Regions from separate parts of the Homo sapiens genome. Here all the other regions are linked to region 3. The links come from fine-mapping of genetic effects on gene expression. A gene starts in region 3. Each other region holds a variant in brackets. All regions are shown on one strand. Distances are between the middles of the regions. Region 1 overlaps CEP97 (centrosomal protein 97). Region 2 overlaps NXPE3 (neurexophilin and PC-esterase domain family member 3). Region 3 holds the start of NXPE3 (neurexophilin and PC-esterase domain family member 3).

The links.
Region 1: its variant is fine-mapped to the expression of NXPE3 in monocytes (Fairfax 2014, PIP 0.95).
Region 2: its variant is fine-mapped to the expression of NXPE3 in whole blood (INTERVAL, PIP above 0.99).

The regions. Positions count from the first base shown.
Region 1 is chr3:101,726,327-101,737,292 of GRCh38, reverse strand. It overlaps CEP97 (centrosomal protein 97), which reads right to left. Exons shown (of 11, transcript NM_024548.4): 2 at 10,557-10,699; 3 at 9,752-9,910; 4 at 8,356-8,457; 5 at 5,340-5,453; 6 at 4,639-4,805. Among named protein-coding and RNA genes, the nearest start is that of CEP97, 7.2 kb to the right of the region's middle. The variant AG/G (reference allele first, on the strand shown) is at 6,100.
Region 2 is chr3:101,824,603-101,834,580 of GRCh38, reverse strand. NXPE3 (neurexophilin and PC-esterase domain family member 3) reads right to left here. Exons shown (of 8, transcript NM_145037.4): 8 at 6,350-9,978. It also overlaps a transcript of NFKBIZ not described here. Among named protein-coding and RNA genes, the nearest start is that of NFKBIZ, 20 kb to the left of the region's middle. RefSeq lists enhancers at 5,035-5,094, 6,537-6,716, 6,867-6,916 and a silencer at 7,684-7,763. The variant T/A (reference allele first, on the strand shown) is at 7,840.
Region 3 is chr3:101,772,513-101,783,478 of GRCh38, reverse strand. It overlaps NXPE3 (neurexophilin and PC-esterase domain family member 3), which reads right to left and starts at 4,268. Exons shown (of 8, transcript NM_145037.4): 1 at 4,155-4,268; 2 at 1,189-1,369; 3 at 699-819. RefSeq lists enhancers at 3,546-3,595, 4,160-4,454 and a silencer at 4,006-4,355.

The DNA.
Region 1 (10,966 bases), 46 kb after region 3:
ACGTTCTCCTGGATAATATCCTGAAGAGTGTTTCCTAACTTGGTTCCATTCTCCCTGTCACTTTCAGGTACACCAATAAAACGTTAAGTTTGGTCTTTTCACATAATCCCATATTTCTTGGAGGCTTTCTTCATTCCTTTTCATTCTTTTTTCTCCAATCTTGTCTTCACAGTTTATTTCATTAAGTTGATCTTCAATCTCTGATATCCTTGCTTCCTTTTGATCAAATCGACTATTGATACTTGTGTATGCTTCACAAAGTTCTCGTGCTGTGTTTTGCAGCTCCATCAGGTCATTTATGTTCTCTCTAAACTGGTTATTCTAGTTAGCAATTCCTCTAACCTTTGTTCAAGGTTCTTAGCTTCCTTGCATTGGGTTAGAATATGCTCCTTTAGCTCAACGGAGTTTGTTATTATTCTGAAGCCTACTTCTGTCAATTTGTGAAACTCATTCTCTGTCCAGTTTTGTTCTTTTGCTGGCAAGCAGTTGTGATCCTTTGCGGGAGAAGAAGCACTCTGGTTTTTGGAATTTTCAGCCTTTTTGCACTGGTTTTTCCTCATCTTCGTGGATTTATCTACTATTGGTCTTTGATGTTGGTGACCTTCAGATGGGGTTTCTGTGTGGATGTCCTTTTTGTTGATGTTGATGCTATTCCTTTCTGTTTGTTAGTTTTCCTTCTAACAGTCATGCCCCTCTGCTGCAGGTCTGCTGGAGTTTGCTGGACATCCACTACCTGTTTTCCTGGCTATCAACAGCAGAGGCTGCAGAACAGCAAAGATTGCTGCCTGTTCCTTCCTCTGGAAGCTTCATCCTAGAGGGGCACTCACCAAATGCCAGCCGGAGTTCTCCTATATGAGGTGTCTGTCAACCGTTGCTGGGAGATGTCTCCCAGTCAGGAGACACGGGGATCAGGGACCCACTTGAGGAGACAGTCTGTCCCTTAGCAGAGCTCAAGGGCTGTGTTGGGAGATCCATCGCTCTCTTACAGAGCCGGGAGGCAGGAACATTTAAGCCTGCTGAAGCTGCACCTACAGCTGCCCCTTCCCCCAGGTGCTCTGTCCCTGGGAGATGCGGAGTTTTATCTATAAGCCCCCTGACTGGGGCTGCTGCCTTTCTTTCAGAGATGTCCTGCCCAGAGAGGAGGAATCTAGAGAAGCAGTCCGGCTACAGCAGCTTTGCTGAGCTGCAGTGGGCTCTGCCCAGTTTGAACTTGCGGGAGATTTTGTTTACACTGTGAGGGGAAAACCACCTATTCGCACCTCGGTAAAGGCAGATGCCCCTCCCCCGACAAGCTCGAGCATCCCAGGTCGACTTCAGACTGCTGTACTGGCAGCAAGAATTTCAACCCTGTGTATCTTAGCTTGCTGGGCTCTGTGGGGCTGGGATCCTCTGCGCTAGACCACTTGGCTTGCTGGCTTCAGCCCCCTTTCCAGAGGAGTGAACGGTTCTGTCTCACTGGTGTTCCAGGCGCCACTGGGATATGAAAAAAACTCCTACAGCTAGCTTGGTGTCTGCCCAACGGCCACCCACTTTTGTGCTTGAAACCCAGGGCCCTGGTGGCGTAGGCACTGGAGGGAATCTCCTGGTGTGTGGGGTTGTGAAGACCATGGGAAAAGCGTAGTTTCTGGGCCAGAGTACACTGTTCCTCCCAGCACAGTCCCTCACGGCTTCCCCAGGCTAGGGGAGGGAGTTCCCTGACCCCTTGCACTTCCCGGGTGAGGCAACGCCACACCCTGCTTCTGCTCACCCTCTGTGGGCTGCACCCACTGTCTAACTAGTCCCAGTGAGATGAGCCACGTACCTCAGGTGGAAATGTAGAAATCACCCGCCTTCTGTGCTAATCTCACTGGGAGCTGCAGACCAGAGCTGTTGCTATTCAGCCATCTTGCCAGCCACCCCCCCACACACTTCTTTAGTGCAGGACAACCCCAGAGAGAGAGGCTACCCCAAGTGGGAGCCCACTCTTCCCTATCTCCTGAAGTCTCTGAAATTAAATGTTTGCAAAGCATTATGGAGAAAGCTCAAAAAATATTCAAATTCACCTTAAAGTCACTTGGAATAAAACCATTTCCACAGTATAGAAACACAGACTTTTTTATCATTATTTATCCAATCAACAAATATTTTCTGTCTTGACACTCTCTTTAGTTTCAACAAACTCTTCAACCTTTAGTCTCTATCCTTATATAATATCATTTATTAAGCACCTACTATATGACCAGTCCTATGTTCTATACATCATCCTTAATCCTACCATCCATGAAAGCAAGGTAGTACCGCTATTCACATTTTACAGATGAGGAAACTTAGCCTCAGAAAAGCCCTAAGGAACTTGACAAGGCCACACAGCTAATAGATAGCAGAGAAAAAAGTGAAGCCTTCCCCTGTCTATCGTAAGCAGGTCTCATCTCTCTTTGTGGGTCTCTCTTTACACCAAACCTTTATCTCTGCCCACATCACCATGCTGCCTCTCAGACATGAAAATGTTGCCAGTCCTACTCCCACAGAAGAAGTCAACAACTGTACAGAGGATTATCCAAGTAAACCCATATTCCAAATCTAGAACTAGTCACAGTTTGAAACAAAATAAGGTTTATTCTCAGAGCAACATTCACAGCAGGAAAAAGAAAAGCCACCCTTTCCTGTAGGCAAACTAGACCTGACATATGTCCCTCACCCTACACCAGCACCACCACTATCTAGCTCTTGGCTGCCATTCCTCACGGCCCTGTGCTTTACTCAGAAACTATACAAAACAGCAGAGAGACAGAGAAGGGAGACGCTGTCTGTAATCTACCACCCGTCCTCCCATCAGGAAACTCCTGAAGTAACTACTGTCTGTAGTAGAGAAGAACAAAAAAAGGCGAGGGATAATGTATGTGTTGAGTCCATAATGCATGTGTGTATGTACTGAGAGAAAAAAGTTAAATGAAGCATAGTAGACAGAATAAAGTCATCTCAACTCTCACTATCCCAATTCCACTCCCTCCTTCCCATATCCTAGTTCCTTACCTCCCCTAAAGCTCTCATTCCACTGATCAGGTATCAGGGTCCAGAAGACTCCATTCTGCAGGGATCCCAGCTCCAAGCCACAGAAACTATTAATGATTTACAGGTGGGGGAATTCTTGCTTCTGCTGCTTCACAGGTATAAGAAGGGGAGAACCTGGCCAGGTGCAGTGGCTCATGCCTGTAATCCCAACACTTTGGGAGGCCGAGGCGGGCGCATCACCTGAGGTCAGGAGTTTGAGACCAGCCTAAACAACATGGAAAAACCCTGCCTCCACTAAAAATACAAAATTAGCTGGGTGTGGTGGCACATGCCTATAATTCCAGCTACTTGGGAGGCTGAGGCAGAAGAATCGCTTGAACCCAGGAGGTGGAGGTTGTGATGAGCAGAGATCGCGCCATTGCACTCCAGCCTGGGCAACAAGAGTGAAACTCAGTCTCAAAAAAAATAAAAAGGCTGGGCGCGGTGGCTCACGCCTGTAATCCCAGCACTTTGGGAGGCCGAGGCGGGTGGATCACGAGGTCAGGAGATCGAGACCATACCGGCTAAAACGGTGAAACCCCGTCTCTACTAAAAATACAAAAAATTAGCCGGGCGTAGTGGCGGGCGCCTGTAGTCCCAGCTACTCGGGAGGCTGAGGCAGGAGAATGGCGTGAACCCGGGAGGCGGAGCTTGCAGTGAGCCGAGATCCCGCCACTGCACTCCAGTCTGGGCGACAGAGCGAGACTCCGTCTCAAAAAAAAATAAAAAATAAAAAAATAAAAAAAAAAGAAGAGGAGGACCAATCACCACATCTGCTACTAGTTCCAAATTAAAACTCTGCATTTTCCCAGAGTTATCATTATAATGAGTATTTGGAGAATTCTAAGATACTACTAATACTGCCCTTACATGGCATTTGGAGCTGGATGATAAAATAGAAAATAAAATGAATAAAAAATACGGCCCTTATATATGTGATAGATTAATATATTACAAGCTTTTGTGAGACTGATCTGAGATCCTACACAGGATCTATAACATGATGGTTTCTAAGCAAAAGTGTTCCAAGCTCCAAACAACTGATTAACAAAAGAACTTTTAGAAATCAAATTGTTGTATGTAGGGCACTAAGACTACTAGCTCCAATCTCTGGGGCCGAGATTTCTTCTTTTTTTTTCAGAGACAGGGTCTCACTCTGTCACCCAAGGTAGAGTGCAATGACACAACCATAGCTCACTGTAACCTTAAATTCCTGGGCTCAAGCAATCCTCCCACCTCAGCTTCCTAAGTAGCTAGGACTACAGGTGTGTACCACCACACCCAGCTAATTTTTTTTTTTTTTTGAGATGTGGTCTCCCTATATTGCCCAGGCTGGTCTCAAACTCCTGGGCTCAAGCAATCCTCCTGCCTCGGCTTTCCAAAGTGCAAGGATTACAGGCATGAGCCACTGCACCAGGCCAATATTTATTTCTTATCCTTTTTTAGAAATGACAGAAAATCCTAAATGACCAGCATATAGTCTGCTACATGACTGCACTAATACTCTTGTTATCTAAATGCACATTTTAAGAAATACTCTATTAATCTGTAGTAAACTAGAAATGGTCTTTTCAGTAACATTTGTGATGTTAAAGAGCACATGTTTACCTTTCCTTCTGAGAAATCACATATCCATCTAGGACTCTGAGGTTTAGGCACCAGCTGACGATGTACGGCCGATAGTCAAATCCTGGGATGGATGGTGTTGCCATCACACAAGGATTGTTCATAATCGACAACTGTTCCAATTCAGTTAAGGATGCCAAAAAAGAGATCTGGAACAAAAGATATCTTTGTTGAACAAAAGGACTATTCAGTGTCAAGCACAAAATTTCCACTGATTACATATCTTTGGCAGCATTTGAGAATGTGATAATTTCCCTCTTGTTCTGAAAAGTGACAAGTGTCCATTGACTTCCAAAGTTTCAACAATATAGCCATCTGTCCCTGCTGCACAAAATCCCCTGGCAAATATCAGCACTGTTTCCTAGCAGAAATAACCCTATTTTGAAAACATCACAGCAGCCAGGAAAGGTGGACAGGGAGTCTTATAAACCCTTATAACGTAGATGTCCCTCTACCACCAATCGCCTCCCAGTGGAATGATAATTACAGCTTTACAAAGGAAATTAGACCTTAATGACCCACTGACACTAAGGAAAAGTGGAAAGATCTAGAGCCAAGCATTTCATATGAATGGCAGTTTCTTCCAAGATGCTCACAGTCTAAAAGTAAGCTCACAACCCTCTCCTGTGTCTTTCCTAGGATTTCCAGCTTCCTGAATCTCACAAAATACCCTCAAATTTTACCTCATTTAAGTCTCGGATTTCATTTTCTGCCAAAGAAAGTATAGCAAGACTTCTGGGTAGGTAAGCAGGTGCCATTCTAAGAGAGGTGATGATGTTTCCATGTAAAAGCAGGGTCTTGAAAGTAAAAACAGTATGAATTACAAATGAAAAGATTACAAATAAATTGGCCTATTGTGACAACACCAAAATGGTACATATAAGAATAAAGGAATCTACTTTATTATATTTCTCATCACACACAAATCAAAGACTGTTAATGCTACAAGGGTCCTTGATGATCTTCTGGTCCAACTCTCTGTTTTCATACCAACATCCTAAGCTCATGATATTTTAAAGACTTGTCCAAAAACACATGCTTGGCATAGCAACTAGGCATGCTGTGAGATTTAACTTATGAGACACTGAGCAATTTCTAACACACTTTTTCATTTTCTTTTAAAATATCAAAATAGAGGCCATGTGTGGTGGCTCATGCCTGTAATCCCAGCATTTTGGGAGGCCAAGGAGGGAAGATTGCTTGAGCCCAGGAGTTTGAGACCGGCCTGGGCAACATAGTGAGACCTGGTCTCTACTAAAAATCAAAAAATTAGCCAGGCATGATGAGGTGCACCTGTATTTCCAGCTACTGGGGAGGCTGAGGTAGGGGGATCACTTGAGCCCAGGAGGTCGAGGCTATAGTAAGCCATGACTGCACCACTGCACTCGAGCCTGGGTGACAGCAAGACTCTGATGTCTCAAATTAAAAAAAAAAAAAAAAAAA[AG/G]TCATTAAAACAACCACATATAAAGCAAATTTTCCAAAAAAGAGAGTGATAACCTACATCCATAATTGCAACTGTATTCTCTAGGTAACTAAAAAATAAAGGGAGGTAGAATGTGTTACTTGCAGATAAAGCTGACTCACATTAAGTCAGCAACAACCAAGAATAAACCCAAAACTGAACACCCAGGATTCTGATCAGATAAATAGGCTTCTATTCCAGCAAAAAAAAAAAAAAAAATTCAATCATCTTTGGTTCATTTGAATTCTCTTAGCATCTATTAGGACAACATCTGGCTACATCAAAATGTTTAGAATAATTATTGCTAAAAATGATTTCTGCTAAAGATCTGGGAAAAAGTGAACTAAGATACTGCTTCTAGGGCTTAATGAACATATCTGATGGTAATAATATCCAATGAGGCAACAATATTTAAAATGTTCTACATGTTTTTCAAGACTGTGATTTCAACTGTTACTTATTTGACTGCATGATACATTCCCCTCCATAAAAAGTGCTACATGCTACATGTTTTTTTCTAAGTGAAATTAATTTTGACAATTAGCTAATACCTATTACTTTAAAAACAGCAATTCTGAATGTCAAAAAAAAAAAAAAAAATCCAGACTTGGGACCCAGCGCAGTGGCTCATGCCTGTAATCCCAACACTTTGGGAGGCCGAGGCGGGTGGATCACAAGGTCAGGAGTTCGAGACCAGCCTGGCCAACATGATGAAATGCCATCTCTACTAAAAATACAAAAATTAGCTGGGCGTGGTGGCATGCACCTGTAGTCCCAGCTACTCAGGAGGCTGAGGCAGGAGAATCGCTTGAACCTGGGAGGCAGAGGTTGCAGTGAGCCGAGATTGCGCCACTGCACTCCAGCCTGGGCAACAGAGCAAAACTCCGTCTCAACAAAACAAAACAAAACAAAACAAAACAAAACAAAACAAAACAAAACAAAAAAACAGACTCGGCCAGTTCGGTGGCTCATGCCTGTAATCCTAGCACTTTGAGAGACTGAGGCAGGAGGACTGCTAGAGTCCAGGAGTTTGAGACCAGTCTAGACAACATAGTAAGATCTCATCTCTGGCCAGGTGCAGTGGCTCACGCTTGTAATCCCAACACTTTGCGAGGCCAAGGCAGGAGGATCATGTGAGGTCAGGAGTTCAAAATCAGCCTGGCCAACGTGGTGAAATCCTGTCTCTACTAAAAATACAAAAAATTAGCCAGGTGTGGTGGTGGGCGCCTATAATCCCAGCTACGCGGGACGCTGAGGCAGAAGTATCACTTGAACACAGGAGGCAGAGGTTGCAGTGAGCCAAGATTGCACCACTGCAACCACTGCTTGGGTTGCAGTGAGCCAAGATTGCACCACTGCTTGGGTGACAGAGCAGAACTCTATCTAAAAAAAAAAAAGAAAAGAAAAAGATCTCATCTCTACAAACACTCAAAAAATTAGCTGGGTGTGGTGATGTACACATGCCTATGGTCCTAGCTACTTGGGAGGCTAAGGTGAGAGGATCACTTGAGCCTGGGAGGTCGAGTGAGATTGTACTACTACACTCTAGCCTGGGTGACAGAGCAAGACTCTGTCTCAAAAAAAAATAAAGACAGACTCAAATTCAGGAATGATTAATCTCAACCTCACCAAAGATTATGTACTATATAATAACTGAAGTTACTAATATTGGTTGATTGGGCATACAGGGAATTCCATCATGTTCAGAGAATGGTAAATAAAATTAACCTTAACTACAATGACCAGTTTCACATCAAATAAATGAGTTATATAACTAACAACAAAAAGTTTCAAACTTAATTTCTGGTATTCTAACATAATTCCTTTTTTTTTTTTTGAGACTGAGTCTCACTCTATTGCCCAGGCTAGAGTGCAGTGACCCAATCTCGGGTCACCACAACCTCCACCTCCTGGGTTCAACCAATCCTGCTTTAGCTGAGTAGCTGGGACTACAGGCTCGCACCACTATGCCCCACTAATTTTTGGTATTTTTAGTAGAGATGGGGCTTTGCCATGTTGCCCAGGCTAGTCTTGAACTTCTGAGCTCAAGCCATCCACTCGCCTCAGCCTCTCAAAGTGCTGGGATTACAGGCATGACCCACCATGCCCAGCCCATAATTCTTATCATAAAGAAAGCAATCTGCTCATACAAAGCAGGCTAATTTTAGGTCAGTAAGATTACTTTCTCTTGGTATTTTGCTATAAAACTTCACAAATGACAAAGAAAACATACTTACTTTCAGGGATACCAATTTAGATAGATCACCTATCTGGGATATATTATTGTCTGATAAATCGAGATGCTGTAGAGCTGTGCAGCTATTGATCTGTTCCATGGCCTATCACAAGAAAAGCATCACACTATTTAATGAAAACAAAATCAAAAAATAAAATTATTCCCTAGTTCTTTGCAGCTGAAAGAGTGTCTTCCCTCCTCTTATTATTAGAAGCAGAGTAGAAGAACTTAGCAAGAGAAAAGGGGCAGTACTAACAGAATTTAGTAGATTGTCAGGTTGTAAACGTACACTTTCATTATCTCTCTATGAGTAGAGGGCTACCAAGTAGTTCATACCATCCAAGATCTTTACAGCTTGAAAAAAAACATAGTAATGGCCAGGCGCTATGGCTCACACCTGTAATCCCAGCACTTTGGGAGGCCGAGGTGGGTGGACAGCCTGAGGTCAGGAGTTCGAGACCAGCCTGGCCAACATGGCGAAACCCTGTCTCTACTAAAAAAATACTAAAAATTAGCCAGGCATGGTGGGCAGGCGCCTGTAATCCCAGTTACTCTTGAGGCTGAGGCAGGAGAATTGCTTAAACCCAGGAGGCAGAGGTTGCAGTGAGCCAAGATCGTGCCACTGCACTCCAGCCTGGACAATAAGAGCAAAACTCCATCAAAAAAAAAAAAAAAACAAAAGAAACCATAGTAATAATATATGACAGTTGGTGGTATAGAATAGAGTTTACAAGTTTAGATTAAAACCAAACAGCCTGGATTTACATTCTGGCCCTGCAACTTCCTAGCTGTGTGACCTTGAGCAAGTTACTTTTCTGTGCTTTAGTTCCTTCACCTTTATAACACGCATAATGTCTATATCTACTTCGCAGGCTACCATGAGATTGAATAAGTTAATACAGATAAATGTTTAGAACAGTAGCTCAGATACATTAATGGCTCAATAAAAGGCAGCTATTGGTAATCTAGTCCTCTCAGCTAGCATGCCAAAAAATAAGACGCAGAAATATGTATTAATTTACCCAAAATTACACAGTTACTAAGTAGTGCAAGTAGGACTAGAATTCAGATCTCCTAACTTTTAAAACTGTATATTCTCCCTTATAGCATTAAACATTTACTTAAAGCTTAATTCAGCATGATATAGTCTCCCTCCTAAACACTCTATGGTTTGATCTACTTTTTTCTAAGTACAATATAGATTCTTTGTTCAAATTTAAAAGAATATTATGTCATATTATATGTTTCAAAATGAGATTTATTTTTAGTTTATTTTAACAGAGATTATCCCTGGAGAGTGGGAGTGGGTACTTTCACTTTTTAATTTGACTTATTTCTACATTGCTTGAATTTTTTTTACGCAGAATAGTTTTGTAAACAAAAAAGAAACCATTCACCTTAAGATTATTTCCTGCCAAATTCAGCCATTCCAGATGTACTAGTTCCTTTAGCCCTTCCACACAGCCAATGCTATTATGAGGCAAATTTAATACACGAAGCAACGTCAGCTTGGCCACACCCATCATCCGAACCAGCCGATTATTAGCTACTGATAACTGTAAAAAGGAAACATATTGTTATTTTTAGGAATAACATATATAAAATATTTCACATTAAAGTGATTTAAAAGGTTTATTTAGACAGCCAAACACTCTCAAACAAACTCCTTTTGTACATTTCACATATATTGTCTAAATATTCTACAGTATGACTATCAGTTTTTTGTTATTGTTCCTGGGCAATAGAAAATACAGATAAAGCTGAGCGATCAGACCTCCTCTAACTACTAAGACATTTTTAACACAGCAACAACTTGAGAATGTAAGTTCCACAAGAATAGTGCTGTTAAACTCTCAGTCAAAACTTAATACAGTGCCAGACATATAAGAGGGACGCAGTAACCATTTCTTGAATGAAGGAATGAATGAACTCTTTACCCCCATCATGAGGTAAAAGGTTACCTTAGTAACACAGTATTTTGCAAAATAAAATGCTTCCTTTTCTTAACAATGCTTTTTTTTTCTAATCTACTCTCAATGTAGTACATGTATGTTCATCTTCAGAAGAAACTGTCATGTAAAAATTTAAGGCAACAATGACTGCTTGCTAGGGCTGCACAGTTACTTTTTGTCAGGTTATTTTATTGTTTTGTTTAATAATAAATTGATCCTATGTAACCATTTCCCAGATTGCAATACCTACCTGTATTAATCGTTTGCATTTCTCCAGATTTTCCAATTTAATAATCTGATTTTTATCCAGAATCAAAGTGTGAATATCAGCTTCACAGGGTAAATTTGGACCTAATTTCTGTAGTCCCTGTCCTGACCAATTGACCACTGATCCTTGAAAAGAAACGGAAATGTTAGAAAACACAAATAAAATAAAACATGTACAACAGCTAAGCATAGGGCTGGAATTATAAAATCTCTATACCATTTCAAGTTAAAGAACAGTAGAGCATAATAAATATCAACATTGTAAAATTAAAGCAATCTTGAGTTCTAAATGACCAGATTGAATTACTCATTTTTCTTCAGAAATATCAAATTAAAACTAGACGTGTGATATTCTCCTCAAGTTGCTAAGATATACTTTGAAAATTTTCACAT
Region 2 (9,978 bases), 52 kb before region 3:
GAGGCCAGCCTGGCCAACACAGTGAAACCCCATCTCTTCTAAAAATACAAAAATTAGCCGGGCGTGGTGGCGGGTGCCTGTAGTCCCAGCTACTCTGGAGGCTGAGGCAGGAGAATTGCTTGAACCCCGGAGGCAGAGATTGTAGTGAGCCAAGATAGAGCCACTGCACTCCAGCCTGGGTAACAGAGTGAGACAGGAAAGGAAAGCGAAAGGGAAAGGAAAAGGGAAAGGAAGGAAGGAAGGAAAGAGAAGGAGAGAGAGAGAGAAGGAGGTAAGGGAAGGGCAGGGCAGGGCAGGGAAAAGAGAGATGAGGGTCAGAGGTAACTCCAAGGCCTTGAGGATAATAGTGGTGGCACAAAGAACAGAAACAAGAAAGCCAGCTGAAGGAGAGTTGGGGAGGTACCAAGTCTGATTTTAACCTTCACATTCTGTTCCCTGCACTGCTCCTGCCACTCTACCTCACCCCTTATCTGCACTCTGATTGGGGCAGTCTCTGTGCCCTACTTATCCAGTAAAATTTCAAGAAAGAATCTAAAAATTAATTCCCACCAAGGCATCAACAGTAACCCTTCTTAAAGGTTATTTGCATTTTAAGAGAGGCTCCCAAAAATGAACAACCATGAAGTTTGGAGAGCCAACAAACCTAAGTGAGGTATGGGGTGGAGAAAGCATGTCCTTTAACATTATTATCACCACCCAGTCCACCTCCTGCCTGCTTCAATTTGGCTGCAATCTGTCACTCTGCCCTAGATTTTGACATTACTGTTGGGTTTAACAATCCCTTTCTTATCTAAATGCTGGATACTGTTCAATACTAGAGGTAAACACACAGAACTGTTTTCATTGGCTGTTTACAAGATACGAAACCTTACCACAGAAGAGCAGGGTTGGGAAGGTCCATGATATATCAGCCTCTGCCATCTTTCAGACAGCTCATCTCTCAAGACACTAGAAATGCCAAGGGTAAATTTGGCAGCCTTGCCCAGTGATCACTTTCAGTTTCCAAACTCTTATCTTCCACCTCAAATTAAACGCACCTCCTTTTCCCATAGCAAAGATACAACATAGAAAGTTCTTATGGCCTTCAGAACAACTTTTCACAGCTGTTATGATTAAAAAATAAATCATCATTTCATTTTTTTTCCACCCTGGGTTATTTGTTCAACCAAAATTTATGAAGTCACCCTGTGCTATGCTACAGAGGTGAGGGAATGGGTGTGGAAGGGGAGGAGAAGGGTAAAAATCAGAACTCACACAATTCCTATCTTCAAAGTGTCCTCAGTTCATCTTCATTCACAAGACCTAATCCCCACATCTATGGATCACCTTTGTAGCTCTGGCCCTTTTAAACCTCCAGCAAGCCTCCCTAGGTTTAAGATGTGGAACTGCATTGCCAGCGGTCCAAATTTCCAAAAAGATCTGACCCACATGGAATCTAAGTGCATTACCTCAATGATTCTCATAGGAGTTATTCTCAACCATGCACATCTTCATAAGTGTGTGCACTGTAGTATGTGGACATGCAAGGGTGAATAAATAGGAGACAGTGTTTTAATAGTGGTGCCGAATCACTGCGCAGATTTACTCAGAACTTCGTGTCATTTTCTATCACATATTCATGGTGTACGCACTTATTCACTGCACTGTGCCAAATACTGCACAAAATGAATTAAAAACAAATTCATCATGGTGCATCCACTGTGTAGAATAGTATGGCAGTTCCTAAAACAATTAAACATAGAATGACTTGATATATCCCCAAAAGTAAAGAAAGCAAGGATTTAAACAGATACTTGTACACCCATGTTCACAGCAGCATTATTCATGATAGCCAAAAGAAACAATCCAAGTGTCCATGGACAGATGAATGGATAAACAAAGTGTGGTATGCACACCTACACACACGCTGGAATATTATTCGGCCTTAAAAAGGAAGGAAATTCTGACATTTATACAACATGAATGAACCTTGAAAATATTACGCTACATGAAATAAACCAGTCATAAGAAGATAGGTATTATATGATTCCACTTACATAAGGTATGTAGAGTCATCAAATTCATAGAGACAAAAAGTAGAGGGGTGGTTGCCAGGGACTTGGGGGAGGGAGAAATGTAGAATTATTGTTTAATGGATATGCAGTTTCAGTCAAAGGGAAGATGAAAAAGTTCTAGAAATGGGTGGTGGCAAAAGTTGTAATATGAAAAGTACTTAGTGGCACTGAACTGTACACTTAAAAATGGATAAGATGGCAACTTTTATGTATCTTTTATCACAATTTAAAAATATATATTTAAAGTATTTAAGGATATAATCAATAAAGCTTTCCTGAAATAAATATGAAGCCAGGCATGGTGGCTCACACCTGTATCCCAGCACTTTGGGGTCCAAGGTGGGAAGATCCCTTGAGGCCAGGAGTTTGAGACCAGTCTGGGTAACATAGCAAGCCCCATCTCTACAATAAAAAATAAAAAAGAAAGAAAGAAACAAAAAAGAACAAAGAAGCTTGGCATGCTGGCATGCACCTGTAGTAGTCCCAGCTACTGATGAGGCTAAGGCAGGAGGATCACTTGAGCCCAGAAGGTAGAGGACACAGTGAGCTATGATCATGCCACCATGCCACTGCACTCCAGCTTGGGTGGGAGAGCAAAACTCTGTCTCAAAAAAAAAGCAAAACTTTGGGAGGCTGAGGCAGATGGATCACTTGAGGTCAGGAGTTCAAGACTAGCCTGGCAAACATGGTGAAACTCCACTCTACTAAAAATACAAAAATTAGTTGGGCGTGGTGGCATGTGCCTGTAGTCCCAGCTACTCAGGAGGTTGAGGCATGAGAATCACTTAAACTCGGAAGGCGGAGTTTGCAGTGAGCCAAGAAGGGGCTACTGCACTCCAACCATGGGCGACAGAGGGAGATTCTGTATCAAAAAAAAAGAAAGGAGAGAGAGAGGAAAAAGAAAAAGAGGAGAAGGAGGAGAAGAAGGAGAAGGAGAAAAAGGAGGAGGAGGAGAAAAGAGAAAAGAAAAGAAACTAAAAACGTTGTTCCCCCTCTGGAAACCAGTACTTTTAAAATCCATGAAAAATGAGGATGTAGACACAAAGCAAGACACAAAAAGACAACAAACCACAGAAAAATCTTTTGACCTCAGTTGAATAAGTACATCCAGAGCATTTACAATGACATGTCTCAACCTTTCTTTCAGTATTAGACCCCACTACAGGGTCTTTTTAGACATCTTTTTCCTAATCATCCCCTGATGAAAGTTTAATATCACAGATATACTGTATATCTATTATGTACTATGGCCCTTTGGGGGCCACAAACTATTGTAATAGCTAAGATTTTTCCCTGAAGAACCTATTTTTGCCCTCTTGGAGATAATATCACCCTCTCTAAGAACGCATGATTTACAGTATTAGACCCTCTACAGATTCACAGTACTAGGCTGTCTAGCAAACTTGACTGAAACAATCAGAGGAATGGGGATGCACATAAACTACTCAATGCTAAAACATATCCAAAAGTCTTCTACCAATATTAAAAGTGCCTGCATGTTGCTAAATATCTGAACAAACAGTGAAAAAATCATTTTTAATGTCTCCAAATATCTGGAGGTTGGCATTTTATAGATATAACATCTAGGTAATTAACAGTATTTTGATAAGTTTAATTCAGATATTTGGTATCATGTATAGAGAATGTAGCATTGTGATTATTGTTTAATATAACCATGACAGAATTCACCATTTGTCGTGGTTATATTTCCCATTCTATCAAAAAGACACATGCACCTGTATGTTCACTGCAGCACTTACTTACAATAGCAAAGACATGGAATCAACCTAGATGCCCATCAACAGTGGACTAGATAAAGGAAATGTGGTACGTATACACTGTGGAAATCTACACAGCCATAAAAAAGAATAGAATCATGTCCTTTGCAGCAACATGGATGCAGCTGGAGGCCATTATCCCAAGTGAATTAACACAGGAACAGAAAACCAAATACCACATGTTCTCATTTTTAAGTGGGAGCTAAACATTGGATACTCAAGGACATAAAGATGGCAACAAAGACACTGAGGACTGCTAGATGGGGGAGAGAGGGAGGAAAGCAAGGGCTGAAAAATAACTATGATCAGTACCTGGGTGATGGGATCAGTTGTACCCCAAACCTCAACATCACGCAATACACCCAGGTAACAAACCTATACATGCACCCCCTGAATCTAAAATAAAAGTTGAAGTTACAAAAATAAATAAATAAAATAAAGCTAATTACAGCTACCTAAAAAATGCTGTAGGGCTAAATGAGATCTTGCTGGTAAGCTCCCAAAACAAGTGTTTAATAAGTGTTAATTCCCAATCCACTAACTCCATCAGCGGCAGTAAATATTTTCATTCCCTACGGTTGAAAGGAAGGTATTTTACTTCACAGACAATCCCAAATTAAAGGAACAGAAAGTGCTTTAATCAGAAACCACATATGCTAGTTTTAAGGAGCCTCTTCACCAAAACTGAGAGGGGGCATGATGCTCTCCAAGCCTGTTAAAGATTACATAACCCTGAAACTGTCAGTAAGCAGAGAGCTGAATTCCCCTCTTAGATGTATTCATATGTCCTCTTGCTATGGAAAATAGCAGAAATTCAACAAATTGGTTTAAAAAAATACTACTAAACCACACACACACACACACACACAAAAAATCTTAGTTCTCATGAAATCACAGTAAAATGCCTATAAATAAAATTCATAGTAATTTTGTAGCAACTTCAAAAAAATGTCTAATTTAAGAGAAAAATCTTAGAAAAATCCCACTGCCCTTTTTGACATCAGCCAGAAGCTAGGTAACACCTGGATGCTACTTGTTTAGAAATATCAGCCCTTCTCACCCTCGAGAGTTCAGCATCAGGCCAAGAAAGCCAAAAGGTGAAGTTCAGCCAGGGCCCTCGAGATCTTCCTGTTAACCTGGGAGAAAAAAATCAAGAGGCCTCCAGATCAGTGTCAGCTATGAGCCAAAAGAAAATGGTGTTTTCAGGAGCAATTCATTATTGGTCTCAGAACAATTAGAAAATCTTTCCCCTCAGTAATGCTTTCCATGGCTCTGTAGCTTCTGAAAGGGTTTGTTTTGCTCTCTGAGAGCTTTCTTGTCTTGTCTGTTACAGGACAAGAAAGAGAAGGGTTTGCCTCCTCTTCCTCAGTGAGGAAAAGTCTGTATCTGAACAGCTGGATTATGCTGACCTCGGTCATCACCTCCACACTGGAGAGGATGCTGCCAAATGTTTCCGTCATCTGCACTGTGCACTGATGTCATGTGCTAACTCCTCTCAGACTGACTCTGCCACCGCAGTGCTCCACGCCTGTACCCTGCCCAACTGTGTCTTTGGCCTCAGCAGGATGATGTTAGAAAGACGGTGGAGAGGGGTGGTGGACCATACACCGTATTCTGAGGCCAAATAAATAAACAGGCAGGGTTATCTGCCTGTTTAGATGATCTGTGTGGCTGATGCCCTGCTCCATCAGGGATTATGCGGGGTGGTGAATGAGACTAGGATAAACTTTTCTCTCCTTTTATTGTCTAAACAACCTACTGTCTAACAGAAGCAAAAAAATATTCCACCCAGCCAGATATTTCTTTAGATGTCAGATTTAAATAGAGGAAATATATATTACCAAATGCTTAAAATTTACGTAACTGTCATCCTCTTTGGGACAGCACCTTCAGCCACTGCAGCGAATTCACTAATCCCAATGAAGAGAATCTCTAATCCATTCTATTTAGAAATGTGCTTTTATTCAAACAAAACCCCTTAACATATACAGATTATCATGAATCTGGGGGTCCAGCCAAATCATCAAATTTCAGGTTTTCCTCATTCATAAAATGGCCATTCATACATTTTAATTTTACAGCTGTAAGAATGAATGAGGGCATGCTATAAAGTATTTCAATTTACTCTGATATATTTTCCCATATAGTTTCATGCCTACGGTTGGTGGGAAAGTACTCCTCTAAACCCACACATCAAATCTCCTGGGAGACTTCTGCCTCGGGATATCATAGTTCTAGGTCACTGACAGAAGATAGTGTTACATTAGATTTATGATACTTCATCACCCATTCTATCGATCTCCTCCATTAGTATCTCAGTCCTTCCTGGGCCTTTAAAGCAAACAGACATGATTCTTGCTATTACTAAACTACAAAAACATCCCAGATTTTCTTTCTCCAAAAAACTATCCCCCAATATTTTGCCCCAAAGCAAGTATGGCTACTCAAACATAGGAGAGTGACTCCAAAGTTAAGAATCTGACTATGGGAATAGGAAAGAAAAAGAAAAAAAAAATCTTACCATTTAAGATATTTTAATAAAATATCAGATAATAAAAATATACCTTTGTGTTTGAAGAGTCAAGTCACACAAATACGTAAGAGCAAATCAATTGTTTCCAGCTGTAATCAGCGATAATAACCCAAGTACGTGACAGCATGAGAAAGACGATCAGTTTCCTTTTGAGGTTACATGATAAGCAGCAGCTAAGCAGCCTTTTTCTCTAAGAACTCGCCGTCTGACCTCGTGGCAAGAGGAGGCCAGCCCCTCTCACTGGCGCCCTTTATAGCGTTCGCTTTCAGTTCTCCACTCTAGTGAGGACGGGGGCGGGGGAAGCTAAGAGCCTGTTTTCTAAAATGCAGAATACGGTCATCCTCTCTTTCGAACCGGGTTGCGTGGGCACTGAGGAGGGCCAGAGGAGGCAGGGAGGGGGCAGCGAGGCCTAGATTTGTGGATTTTTTTTCTGCACACTGGAAATTCCCAGACCAAAAAGGTACCGACCCGAGTCCCGGACATTCCCCTCGAGGGCCGGCTCCAAGACCTGGACTGGAGCCGCAGGGAGGAATCAGAGGCAACATCTACAAACAAAACTTTTTCCTTAAAGACGTCCTTTTAAAATGTCCTAGTGAATCTCCTGATGGGCATTAGAGTTGCCTTCTCATTAGATTCACCTCATCTTATTTCGCTTTTTCTGTGTGGCCCCTAAACGTGAGGGTGCAGTGGGCGGGTGGAGGGAGTTACCTTTTACCATATAGCTTTTACAATACGGCAATCAAAAAGTAGTATCGCAATCATGTGCCTTCACTGACTAATTAAAGGACAAGAAATCTGTGACATAAATAAAGCAATGGTCCTGTAACATGAAGATCACTTTATTTTCAAGGAGTAAGGGGAATGGTAATGGGGTAGATTTAACAGCAAATGAACCACTGCACAAAACTGAAAGGATTTCTCCTATGACATTTAGTTTCACTTCTTTTCCATTTAGGACACTAGCTGCTGTAATCTCGGTACTACTTTTTTTTAAGTTATCTTCCCCAAGCAGTGTTACAATCCAGCTGGAATGGGCATTAGATATACACATCATTAGACTCTTAAAAAGAGGCCCGATGGCCTCTCATTTAACCAGAATATTAAAAAAGAAAATATATGTACACACATATAAATATATTTAAGTTCACACTTTTTTATTTTTTATTTATTTATTTATTTATTGAGACAGAGTTTCACTCTCGTTGCCCAGGCTAGAGTGCAATGGCATGATCTCGGCTCACTGCAACCTCCACCTCCCGGGTTCAAGCGATTCTCCCACCTCAGCCTCCTGAGTAGCTGGGATGACAGGCATGTGCCACCACACCTGGCTATTTTTGTATTTTTAGTAGAGATGGGGTTTCATCATATTGGTCAGGCTGGTCTTGAACTCTTGACCTCAGGTGATCCGCCCACCTCGGCCTCCCAAAGTGCTGGGATTACAGGCATGAGCCACTATGCCCGGCCCACATTTTTT[T/A]AAAAAGTTAAAATGTAAAAGCACTTTTAAGAGACAAGTTAGACAGAAGGTGGTGGAGTACATTTTCTGCTCTCCTAGCTTCTGTGTCCTTTAAACTCCTGCCCTCAACCATCCTCTTATCGTCCACCACCTCCATTCCCCTAGGATTCCCAGGTCCCCTTAGCACTCAGGGGCTGTGGTCTCACCTTCAAATGAAAAACAACAACTTCAAAATTTTATTTATTGCACACTGAGGTGTCAAGAATCCTAAGTACACTAATACTACATTGTAGACATAAACCAGGTAGAATAATGCTTAACACAAGAAAATAAATACACTTGAAGTGGAATTTCTGGCATTAGTGACTAGCTGATGTTAAAAAGCTGAATTTACCCAGAATCCACAGAGATAATGCTGAGCAGTTTTTTAGAAAGTTGGGGAGGCTTATTTCTGTTGTTTCCCTTGGGTGTTTATTTCCCTGTACCTCTCTCAGTCATCACTATTTCCTTGAACAGGGTCCAGAAACAGACTCATTTCTGGCATGTAACACATGAATATATAAAGGCGTACCATATTTATTCTTGTCAAGTACCCTGATTTACCAATCTGCAAACTAAGTTTTCAGATTGATAAATGTGAAACTGGATTCAGTTATTAAACTGGATCAAGTTTCAATCTGAAACTTAATAACTGAATCCAGGAAGTGTCAGTTAAATGGTCTTAATTAAAATGATAGTTGTTCAGAATGGCAAAATGAATCATACTGGAACACCAAAGGTCTGTTTTGCATTCGCTGAAGAAAGGTTACTTTTAGTAGGATAATTCTATAAAATGTAACTTGCATAGAAAGGCTTTATTATGGGTTCTGTCTGTCACAAATAGCATCAAATCAATCATCTCAGTTCTGGAATATGAGATTCACTACATTAAATTAATACTTTCATTCCAAAATAGAAATTCATATTTTAAACCACTGAAATTGATATAAACCACTGCTTTAATATTGTAAACCTAAATGTCCAACTATAATGACCAACTTATCTAATAATGAAAACTGCAGTAGCAGAACTATTAAGCAGATCTTTATAATTAACTTATGAAGACTATTTAACATAGAAAAATATTTATATGTAAAAAACACAGACCCAAATTACATATTCTCTATAAGTATATGGTTAAAAAACCTGCAAGAAAATATACCTAAATGCTAATGTTCATTGCATTCAGATGATAGAATTATGGATTTTATCCATAGATTTTTCTTCTAGATTTTATAGTTTTTAAAAATTATGATGCCCCTTATATTTATATTGGGAAATATACATTTAAACAAACTATTATTTGGCTACCATGCTAATATTCACAACCATGTGGCACTAGCCTAAAATAAACTTTTCAGAAGAAACTAAATTATTCTATCTAAATATTCTGGGAAACGTTTAAGTGATATTGGAATCTCTATCAAAATTTCCACACCAGAGTGAAGAAAGACAAATTAGATGTGGGATGAAAGTTGTTCTCACTGATAAGTGAGAGCTAAATGATGAGAACACATGGACACATAAAGGGCAACAACACACACTGGGGTCTATTGGAGGGTGGAGGGTAGGAGGAGGGAGAGGATCAGGAAAAATTACTAATGGGTACTAGGCTTAACACCTGGGTGATGAAATCATCTATACAACAAACCCCCATGACGTAAGTTTACCTATGAAACAAACTGGCACATGTACCCCTGAACTTAAAAGTTGTTAAAAAAAAAATTTTTTTAAGAGAGATGAAAGTGACTCAAGAAGCTGTGTCACCAAATCTTTGAGAGCTATGTCACCAAATCAAAAAATAACAGAAAACCAGACAAGATCATAAGAAATCATTTGCACAATCAAGTGGCATCATTCCAAACCACTGGAGGAGCAATGCCCGCTTTCTTTTTAAAATTCTCCTGGGAAAATTACTCCTCAGCCTCCTTTATAAATCCTTGAGGAAATGTCAAGTTCTTTCACGACAAGAAAAACTCTCAGCTGGGCACAGTGGCTCACACCTGTAATCCCAGCACTTTGGGAAGCTGAGGTGGGCAGATGCTTGAGCTCAGGAGTTTAAGACCAGCCTGGACAACATGGCAAAATGTAGTCTCTACAAAAAGATACAAAAATTAGCTG
Region 3 (10,966 bases):
AAAGACCTGACTCTGTGCTGTAAGTAGAGCACTGACATTTGAGAGACCCATTTGTACACCTAAATAGATGTTGCGTGAGGCACACTAGACAGACCTCTCTTTGAAAAGATATATACCAGGCCAGGTGCAGTGGCTCACGCCTGTAATCCCAGCACTTTGGGAGGCCGAGGCAGGCGGATCACAAGGTCAGGAGATCGGGACCATCCTGGCTAACATGGTGAAACCTTGTCTCTACTAAAAATACAACAAATTAGCTGGGCGTGGTGGCGGGTGCCTGTAGTCCCAGCTACTCGGGAGGCTGAGGCAGGAGAACAGCGTGAACCTGGGAGGCGGAGCTTGCAGTGAGCGGAGATCACGCCACTGCACTCCAGCCTGGGTGACAGAGCGAGACTCCGTCTCAAAAAAAAAAGAAAAGATATATATTAAAATTTTAATAGTTGTCACCTCTTGGCAGTTTTTGTTTTCTCCTTTATCTGTATGTCCTAATTTTTCACCAGGAAATAAAAATCACAAATACAAAGAATAAAGCTGGGCCAGGCATGGTGGCTCACGCCAATAATCCCAACACTTTGGGAGGCCAAAACAGGAGGTTTGCTTGAGACCAGGAGTTTGAGACTAGCTGAGGCAAGATAGTGAGACCCCCAACTCCACACACACAAAAAATTTTTTTTTAATTAGCTGGGCATGGTAGTACGCACCTATAGTCCCAGTTACTCAGGAGGCTGAGGTAGGAGAATTGCTTGAGCCTGGGAGGTCGAGGCTGCAGTGAACCATGATCATCACACCAATGTACTCCAGCCTGGGCAACAGAGCAGGACTCTGTCTCAAAAAAAAATGAAATAAAATAAAGAATAAAACCAATTTCTAAAAGTAAAAATTAAAGATGAGACATAGCAGAAACAAAGCATTAAATCACATCTGTGAAATCAATTCAACTTAAACTGAAAGATTTTTAAGTAAAAGAAGAAAACTATTTCACGGCATGAGGTAATTGTAGTGTAAAAAAAAAACTGTAACAGGTTTTTGGTATTTTCCTATAAACATAAAACCTACGCATTATAACAGGAATGCTATTTGCAAGGAGCCTTAAAATCAAGTAAGAACAACAGTGTTGGCAGGGAATGATTATAGAAAAAAGTTCCTCAGATTAACCAAAAAAATAAAAATATATAATTCAATGTAATTTACCTTTTTTGGAAATTTTCCAAGAAGAGATGCTTACTGGAACTAGAAATTAGAAGTTACGTCTAACTTTCCTTCCAGCATGAAATTCTGAACTCAGGCAATTTTGACCAGAGGTCCTCATTTTTTTCATGCCACATGTGAAGCACACATAAATGTTTTTTACATTTCTATACAATTCTTCTTGCTGAAACAAAAATATGCATATGATATAAAGGTTAAAGATACTGAAAATGAAGTAAAGAAAAACATTAGAAATTAAGAGTACAATTTTACAGGCAAGAGAGTTATACATGATATAGTGGGAGGAGTGGGCATAGGAACGTTTCCTTTTCCTTACTAATAAAAAACAGTAATTTAAATAGTCTATTTAAATACATGAACTTCAACATGGTAAATCACTCTCAGACCTTGGCTGAAGGTCAAAACTTTATAAACAGCGATATAAGTGAAAAAATATAAACCAAAGATAAAAGCTCCAAATGTTATTTTTCTTAAAAACTATTATAATTATTTAGTTCAATGATCCAATGATCTTGTTTTCCCCTACAGAAAAAAGGGGTATCTGTACAGATCTAAAAGTTATTATTCAAGGAATCTAAACTTGAGTGATCCTGTTTTCAAATGTCAGACCACCACTTACTCATGCTTTATTTTTATAATATGTGCAAAGAACAAGCAAAAAGTTAAATGCATGCTCTGCCTTACATGTGGAACCCAGTATTTGTTGGAAGTGTTCTGCCAAATTTTTATTAAGCCTACTTCCATATCCAAGACTCATAGTGGCCAATCTAACTTCTTTATGGCCTGTGACAACAACCCCAGACTGCCATTAGGGTTCCTACCCCCATCTCACAAGAGAATTACAAAGCAGTCACTTACATCATTTGGAATTACAATTGTCAGTAACACAAATGAAATTCCTGAGTTCAATATTAAACAAAGAAAATCAGACAGCAACCCTATCCTCTGGGGAGCTAATGTTCTCAGGCAACCATTCCACAAAGATAATATATTATAGGACAACTGCATAGAAACTGTCCAGTTTCTGAGGCAGTCCCTATCCTAACTACTCTGACCTGTTGGCCAAATAAATGTAACTGTACTAGTCACAGCAAGTGTCTGGAACTTTAGTTCAGAATATATAGTTCAGAACAATAGTAAGAGACAAAAGCACAGATTTACATGGAAAATATCTACACTTAAATGCATATATTTCAAACTTTGCAAAGAGTAGCTGTATTTCATAGGATGCTGAGTAAGACCTTGAAACAGGGCAGGATCTACAGAATGAAGAACTGGAGACCCATCCAGGACCCTAACAATGATGGGTTAACCAAATAGGGTCAATCCTTGAAAAAAGATGAAGCAGGGGCAGTAGTCTGCAGGACTTGTTTCCACAGATTCCATTTCTCCTTCGTGTCCCGCAGCCTCACATGCACAAAGTGCTGACTCATCTGGACCTTCCCTTGCCCTTCTTCCAAAGCAGGGCCCCATGTATTCATGGAGGTTACATAGCAAGTGGAGAAGTAATAAAATCAGTTATATAAGTCACACTGTACTAAGTGCTATTTTTTAAATATTGAACACATTGATAGGTTGTGGTCCTCAACCCTGCATGAACATTAATAATCATCGTGGAAGCTTTTTAAAATACAAACAACTGGGCCCCACTCAAACAATTAAATCAGAATCTGTAGGAATAGGCCCAAGAAGTAGCTTTTTTTAAAAAGGTCCCTAGATGATTACAACATACAGCCAAGTGGGAGAACCACTAGTATAGAGTGGCCAGGGACTGTTATTCGTTTCAGTTGGTAAAAGGATGGCCTTTCCAAAATGATGTTTGAATTGTAACTTAAATTGTCAGGTCAGGACAACCCAATTCCCAGGCAATGGGGAAGGCTAACCCCACTTCAGTGATTTATCCCTTCGTTTCCTTTCTCAGTAACAAATAACAGCACTCTATTGGCCCCAAAGAGATTGTGAGGATAACAGACATGGAAAAAAAAATACTAAACAAATTCAAAGAAAAGCAGAACCCAAACACTACGGAGAAATAGTATACTGCTGCCTCCAAACAATTATCAGGGTCTGGGAGTCCTGCCAGTTTCAAATATATCCTGATGTTCCAAATGATAATTAACCACAGTGAGGAGCGGGGAGGCCCACCAAAGCAGTGTGATTCTTTATCTTTAGGAAATGTGGCAACAATCCCCCTTTAATGTAAATAATGAAAAGCAAAGAAAATTTACAATTTTGCACAAATGCTGCATAAATCCTGCCTCGGAACCCCTCTTATTACCACCCTAGTGGCCTTTGATCAGGCAGAAATGGGCAACAGGCCAGGGTCTCCATATCACACCTTGTAAAGTTACACTCGTTTCTCCCCATACGACCTGAATCTGATGTCCCCAAACGGCAGCTCAGTAAGGCCAGAACAGTCCACCGTGTGACAGCAGCGCCAGCCAAGAGGCAGCTGGTGCCCAGAGCAGCGATGAGCCGAGAGATATGAGATGGGCAGGGAGGCGTCGCCAAGTGCTCCGCACCGGGTTAGTGAAGGTGCCTGGAGGACAGAAGTCTTTCGCTGCGGCGTGGAGGTCCGAACTGTACCGAGCTGTGGCGTTGCCGCAAGTGGAGGAAACTGAGGATGGAGATGCTCGCTCCCGGCCCCGCCCCGCCCCGCCCCGCCGGTACTAGCCTGGGCTCCGGCTTCTTAGCTGCGACGCTTTGGCAACCCAGGGCTCCAATTCTGCCTATGCCTTCGACCCGGGCCTCCCCTCCCTGGCACCTATGCCCACAGCCACGACTCCAGGGGCTGCACCTATCAGCACGGGGCTGGGGACTCGGGAGCAGATGCGCGCGGAGGGAGGGGCTTCGCAGTCTAGGAGCGCGCTGGCAGAGCCGGGCAATGGGTCGCTCCGCCCGCAGCGGCCCCTCCCGACGTCCGCACACAGACCACATCCAGCACTCACCTCCGGGACCCGCCCGCCCTTCGCTCTCCGGGGGCCAGGGATCCTGACGCCCCGGTCGGTCGCCGCAGCGCCAGGCCGCTAGCCCCCCGCTTCCTCACCCGGCGACGTCTCCTCACCTCCGACCCCCGGCTACGATTGGTGGAGCTTCGGCGGGGGCGGGCCGAGGGCGTTGACTGACAGCAGCACGCGCCGGGCGGAACCCACAGGCCTGGAAGCGAAGTTGGCACCCTGGCGCTCTACGCCGCCAAGCTCCTGCTCGCGACGCGACACTGCAGCTGTCGCCCCGCGGATCGAGGTCTGGCCCCTCTCACGACCCAACTCCTCGTGAACTTCGGACGTCTGAGTTTCCTGGGAGCATCCACCTACCTCAAGGCTTTTCGCTTGTCAGCGAAAGTGCCCACAACCGCAGTTGACTCTAGTAGGGCAGTCTTTCCTGTGGAGTGATGGAATTTATTGTGCCCTGAACCAGAGAAATGCGATTTGCCAAGTATAAGCACGGATATAGCGGATCCTTGAATCTTTTCCTTGCTTTGACATTAGTCAACAACTTCTACTCGCCAGTAAAACAGCCCGTTCCTTTTACTCTCACTGTACATGATGTCGGTCTCTTGGCAAAGCATACTTTCCTCACCCTCCACCATCCCCAATTCTGGGTTATCCTATTTTGGACATTTTTCTAACTGGTAAAACGTCGGTAGCAGTTTTGTGAAATTCAGGAACTGAGAGGAGTCCTGAGAAGACACTTGTTCAAGAAACCAGAAGGAATTGTGGGCTGCACCGTGTTTCTCTGTGCTTGGAGCACAGTGGGGTTAACACAGGCCCCAAAAGCAGGCCTGCCCCCGGACTATTACCCCAAGGTTTAAGAAAAATAATTAATGTACATGACAACTAAGTATTTTTCCATTTCTTGACCATAATGGACTCTGCATGCTCATTCAGATGTTTTCATGGCAGGCCTGCTTCGTGGGCAACCAGATCCGTGAATGGGATAAAAGGAAGTTCTGCCACAGGGTGGAAGATCTCTTCTGTAGTAATGATCTTCTTTTTTTTTTTTTTAATATACTTTAAGTTCTAGGGTACATGTGCACAACGTGCAGGTTTGTTACATATGTATACATGTGCCATGTTGGTATGCTGCACCCATTAACTCGTCATTTACATTAAGTATATCTCCTAATGCTATCCCTCCCCCCTCCCCCTACCCCACAACATGCCCAGGTGTGTGATGTTCCCCTTCCTGTGTCCAAGTGTTCATTTATGCAGCCAACAAACACATGAAAAAATGCTCATCAGCACTGGCCATCAGAGAAATGCAAATCAAAACCACAATGAGATACCATCTCACACCAGTTAGAATGGCGATCATTAAAAAGTCAGGAAACAACAGGTGGTGGAGAGGATGTGGAGAAGTAGGAACACGTTTACACTGTTGGTGGGACTGTAAACTAGTTCAACCATTGTAGTAATGATCTGATACTCCTTCTTCCTCGAGGAAATACAGCACTCTGGGACCTTTTGAGGACATAAAAGGGTAGCTTCCTTCTGCTATCGAAGAAGAGCCTCATATACTAGACTTCTGCTCTGATTATGCTTTATCTCCCAGTAGGATCCCCCGCCTCATGTACAGCTTGGCTGTCTTACAAGTGGTAAAATACTTAGGACAAGATGACTTCTAGGTCATGGTTTTGGACCTCATTGACCCCATTCTCCCCCAAGCACTCATAACCCTGAGGCATTTGAGTGATCTTACCTATATTTACCTATATTTTACAGTCATAACCACAAATAAGAGCAGCCACTGCACTCCAGCCTGGGTGACAGAGTGAGGCCCTGTCTCAAAAAATAAAAAAATGTTTATATGATGATATGAAACCAAAGGAACTGGTCATTTCTGCCCCATCTGAAAATGTAGTTTACACACTAGTGTTTATTAATGCTAAACTTGATTCTCTAAGCAAAACAAAGCATAGATCTTAAGAGTAGACAAATAAAAGCAAATAAACCTGTCCCTGATGGCAGAAGCTTGAGGCACAAGCACATTAAGTATTTTTATATTTCTTGACCACAGTGGACTCTGTGTTCATTCAGATGTTTTCACGGAGGCCTACATGCATACTCCTGAGCCCAAGTCAGTTCCTCATTCAGTTCCTTTGCTTCCTCCCTTTGAACAAGTCACTGAAATTTGGGCCCCAAGGCCATCTACCTACTGAAAATTAAGTGACCACTGTCACATTAGGTACCAACCACTCTGTTCCAAAACACCATGAACAATTGGAGGAGGCTGCCAAGGGTAAGAGACTGAAAGTGAGTGAAGTAGTTGATGTCACTACTGCGTTGGTCCATGCTCTCAAATTAATGGACATATTTTCCTTTTAAAAGTCATAATTGGCCAGGCGCGGTGCTCATGCCTGTAATCCCAACACTTTGGGAGGCTGAGGCAGGTGGATCTCCTGAGGTCAGGAGTTTGAGACCAGCCTGGCCAACATGGTGAAACCCCGTCTCTACTAAAAATACAAAAACATTAGCCGGGCATAGTGGCAGGCGCCTGTAATCCCAGCTACTCGGGAGGCTGAGGCAGAAGAATCGCTTGAACTCGGGTGGCGGAGGTTGCAGTGAGCCGAGATCACGCCATTGCACTCCAGCCTGAGCAACAAGAGCGAAACTGTCTCAAAAAAAAAAAAAAGTTATAATTAATGATGGCTAATCTCACATGCATAGTTTAGGGAAAAATGAGATCAATTTTTTTTTCCTCCACTCTTGATTTCTGCAGTTCAGTAGTCCTCAAATCAAATTCCACTGATAATCAAAATAACATCAGTAGCATTTTTTTTTTTTTTTGAGATGGAGTCTCACTCTGTCGCTCAGTCTGGAGTGAGGTGGCAGAATCTCGGCTCACTGCAACCTCCACCTCCCGGGTTCAAGCGATTCTTCTGCCTCAGCCTTGAGAGTAGCTAGAATTACAGGCGTGTACCACCACACCCAGGTAATTTTTTTAATTTTTAGTAGAGACAGGGTTTTTTACCATGTTGGCCACGTTGGTCTCAAACTCCTGGCCTTTCAAGTGATCCACTTGCCTCAGCCTCCCAAAGTGCTGGGATTACAGGTGTGAGCACTTTGGGAGGCCGAGGCAGGTGGATCATGAGGTCAGGAGTTTGAGAGCAGCCTGGCCAATACGGCAAAACCCCATATCTACTAAAAATACAAAAATTAGCGAGGCGTAGTAGCACACGCCTGTAGTCCCAGCTACTCAGGAGGCTGAGGCAGGAGAATCGCTTGAACCTGGGAGGTGGAGGTTGCAGTGAGCCGAGATTGCGCCACTGCACTCCAGCCTAGGAGAAAGAGTGAGACTACATCTCAAAAAAAAAAAAAGAATATTGATCAGGCATTTTGTAGACTACCCCTCAACTTGAATTTGCCTGGTGTTTGTTTACTCATGGTTAGACTCGGGGAAAGAACACCAGAATGAAATGTCTTCACTGCATCAGATTAAGGAAAATGTGACATGATTTATCACTGGTGATGTTAACCATGATCATTTGATTGAGGTGTTATATGCTACGTTTCTCCGCAATAGAGTTGCTAATTTTCTTTTTCCATACTCCATCCATTAGTAGCAAGTCACTAAATCCAGCTCACACTCAGGAGAGGGAAATTAAGCTTTATCTTATGAAGGAAGGAGTATCAATGAACTTTTGGGTACATGTTTAAACCACCATAATAATCAATATATATTTAAGGGAAGATACTTTGAAGCTACACAAATATTCTATCTCTTCTTATAGTTTTGCCCACTAATTTAGGTATTCATCGTGGATTTCTGTTGTAGCAATTATTATAGTGGTTTTCGAATGGTGATTTTCCTATTTCCTTCATTCTTTCTGCATTTATTATTTGGAAGTCTTCTCTAAGAGTTGTCCTTCTGTACCCTGAGAGGATTAAAAACTTAGAAAAAAAAATGAAAGAGTTGCCCCTTCTTCTCCAGCTATTTATTCAATAATTTACATCAGGGTGCACTCATGGATATTTATTTTATTCCTTGATTTATAATCTGTTGTTATTTTGCTGCTCAAATTATTTCAGCTTTTGCCATTGGGACCTCTTTCAGGTTGCTTCATGTATCTCTTTTACATGCTTGATCATTTGTTTGCTTATCACTTCCTTACTTTCTGGCACTTAAGATGTTCTGGGATCACTTTTTTTTTCTTTGCTCCGCCCCTGGAATCAACCATTTCTCCAAAGAGCCTTGTTCCCTTTTATTGAAGAATTGTAGAGACCAAGACATGAGTGCTATGTATGCTTGTTGCTACTGAAGGATCATTCTTTCTAGGCCTGTACAGAGCTAAAAATGTACATGGGTATACTAACCCATGTATAAACATATGCACTGTATCTTTATATATACATTTACATTTATATAGACATACATGTCTATATTTACTTCCATAACTACCTGTGTAGACATGAGTTCATATTGATATCTCCAACTCCAATCCAGCACCACAGGGTTCATTCCTGCATTTCTCCTTTGCATATTTGTAATTTCTTTTTCTAACAGTGAGATAGCTGGCCATGATTATCTATATTTACTTATTTGTTTAAGCCTAGTATAGATGCAGTTACAGAATAGACAACCTGTACCCCTGTAAGAAACATTTACCAACCAGAGTACAGTGTTCCTATACAGTTCTTTTTGTCTCTAGCTCAGTGAGGTTATGTCATAAATTTGTAATACAGTTGGTGTCATTTGTCATAGTCCACATTCCATTCTGAGATCCCCTTGACATCCTCAATAGAGATTTATTTTTTGGCAAAACTTGAAAAAAGTTCAGACTTTGTGATGTATTGTTCTATGGATTTTGACAAGTTTGTAGACAAACGTATCCACCATCACAGTACCATACAAAATAGTTTCACCCTAAAAATTCCCACATGCAAGCCCTTTTTAGTCAATCTGTTCCTCAATCTCTAACAACCACTTATCTATTTTCTCTCCCTATAGTGTTGCTTTTTCCAGAATTTCATATAAATAGGATCATACAATATGTACTCCCCAGATTATGATTACCAGAAAGTTTGGGAACCAATACTCTTGCTAATTCAGATCTGATGAAGCACCAACATCCACTTCATCACCAAACTGGGAATCAGCTTCAATTGTTTGAGGGGGCAAAAAGTTTTCTTTTCCTTCAAAGATAGATGAAACAATACAAGAAAAGCTTTGCTATCCTACTCCCTCTCCAGAATATGGACTTCTGCTCCCACCAATTTGAGTCGTATTTGTTTCCAAACCAGTTTATTCCAGTTATAACGTGATTATAATAATATAATCTAAGCACTTTTTTTTTTTTTTTTTGAGACGGAGTCTCCCTCTGTCACCCAGGCTGGAGTGCAGTGGTGGGATCTTGGCTCACTGCAAGCTCCGCCTCCCGGGTTCACGCCATTCTCCTTCCTCAGCCTCCCGAGTAGCTGGGACTACAGGCGCCTTCAACCACGCCCGGCTAATTTTTTGTATTTTTAGTAGAGACGGGGTTTCACCATGTTAGCCAGGATGGTCTCGATCTCCTGACCTTGTGATCCGCCCACCTCGGCCTCCCAAAGTGCTGGGATTACAGGCGTGAGCCACCGCGCCTGGCAATCTAAGCACTTATTATGTGAACCTTTGAAATCTAGTGTAAAAACAAAAAATATTCAAGGAAAACAAAGTTGAGTGTTTCGGAAAGACTCAAAAGTGAATTGCTTAAAAAGGTAAAAAAACTGCAGTTGAGTTAGGTATGGGCAAGAAATGTGTCAAAAATCAGATGGAGAAATTATAAACACCTAGAAGTATTCTGCATTCTGATGGCTTTATACATGTTTTTAAATTCTTACTCTATTTTAAAGAAACTAAAAATGGAAATGGTGCATTATAGGTAAAATTTAGACACAGAACTACAGAGCATCTATACTCAAAGAAAAGAACATTAGAAAAAAACAAAGGACTCAAACATTACCTGATTTCAAGACTTAGTATAAAGCTATAGTAATGAAGGTGGTGTAGTATTGAAATATAAACAAATCAATCACTGGAACAGAAGACAATCCAGAAATGGATTCATACGTATATGGCCAGTTGATTTTTGCAAAGGTGACAAGACAGTTAAATGGGGAGAGGACAATCTTTTTCAACAAATGGTGCTGGATACCTGGATAATCATATGTAAAAAATAAAGAAACCATAAACTTTATCTCGTACCATATAAAAATTTAACATGAAATGGATCATAGGTTTCAGTGTAAGAGCCAGAACTACAAAACCTCTAGAAAAAAAACTTAGAATATCTTTGTGGCCTTGGGTATGGCAAGATTTCTTAAACACAACACCAAAAGCACAAACTATTTAAAAATCAACATATTAGACTTCATCAAAATCTTAACCCTTTTCTCTTCAAAAACCATGATCATGAACATGAAAAGGCAACCCACAGACTGAGACAAAATATTTTATATTTGTTCAAGGACTTGTGCCTAGACTATATAAATCTTTTTTTTTTTTTTTTTTTCTCTGAGACCAAGTCTTGCTCTGTCCTCTGTCACCCAGGTTGGAGTGCAATGGCGTGATCTCGGTTCACTGCAACTTCCACCTCCTGGGTTCAAGCGATTCTCCTGCCTCAACCTCCCAAGTAGCTGGGACTACAGGCACATGCCACCACACCCGGCTAATTTTTTGTATTTTTAGTAGAGATGGGGTTTCACAGTGTTAGCCAGGATGGTCTCGATCTCCTGACCTCGTGATATGCCCACCTTGGCCTCCCAAAGTGCTGGGATTATAGGCG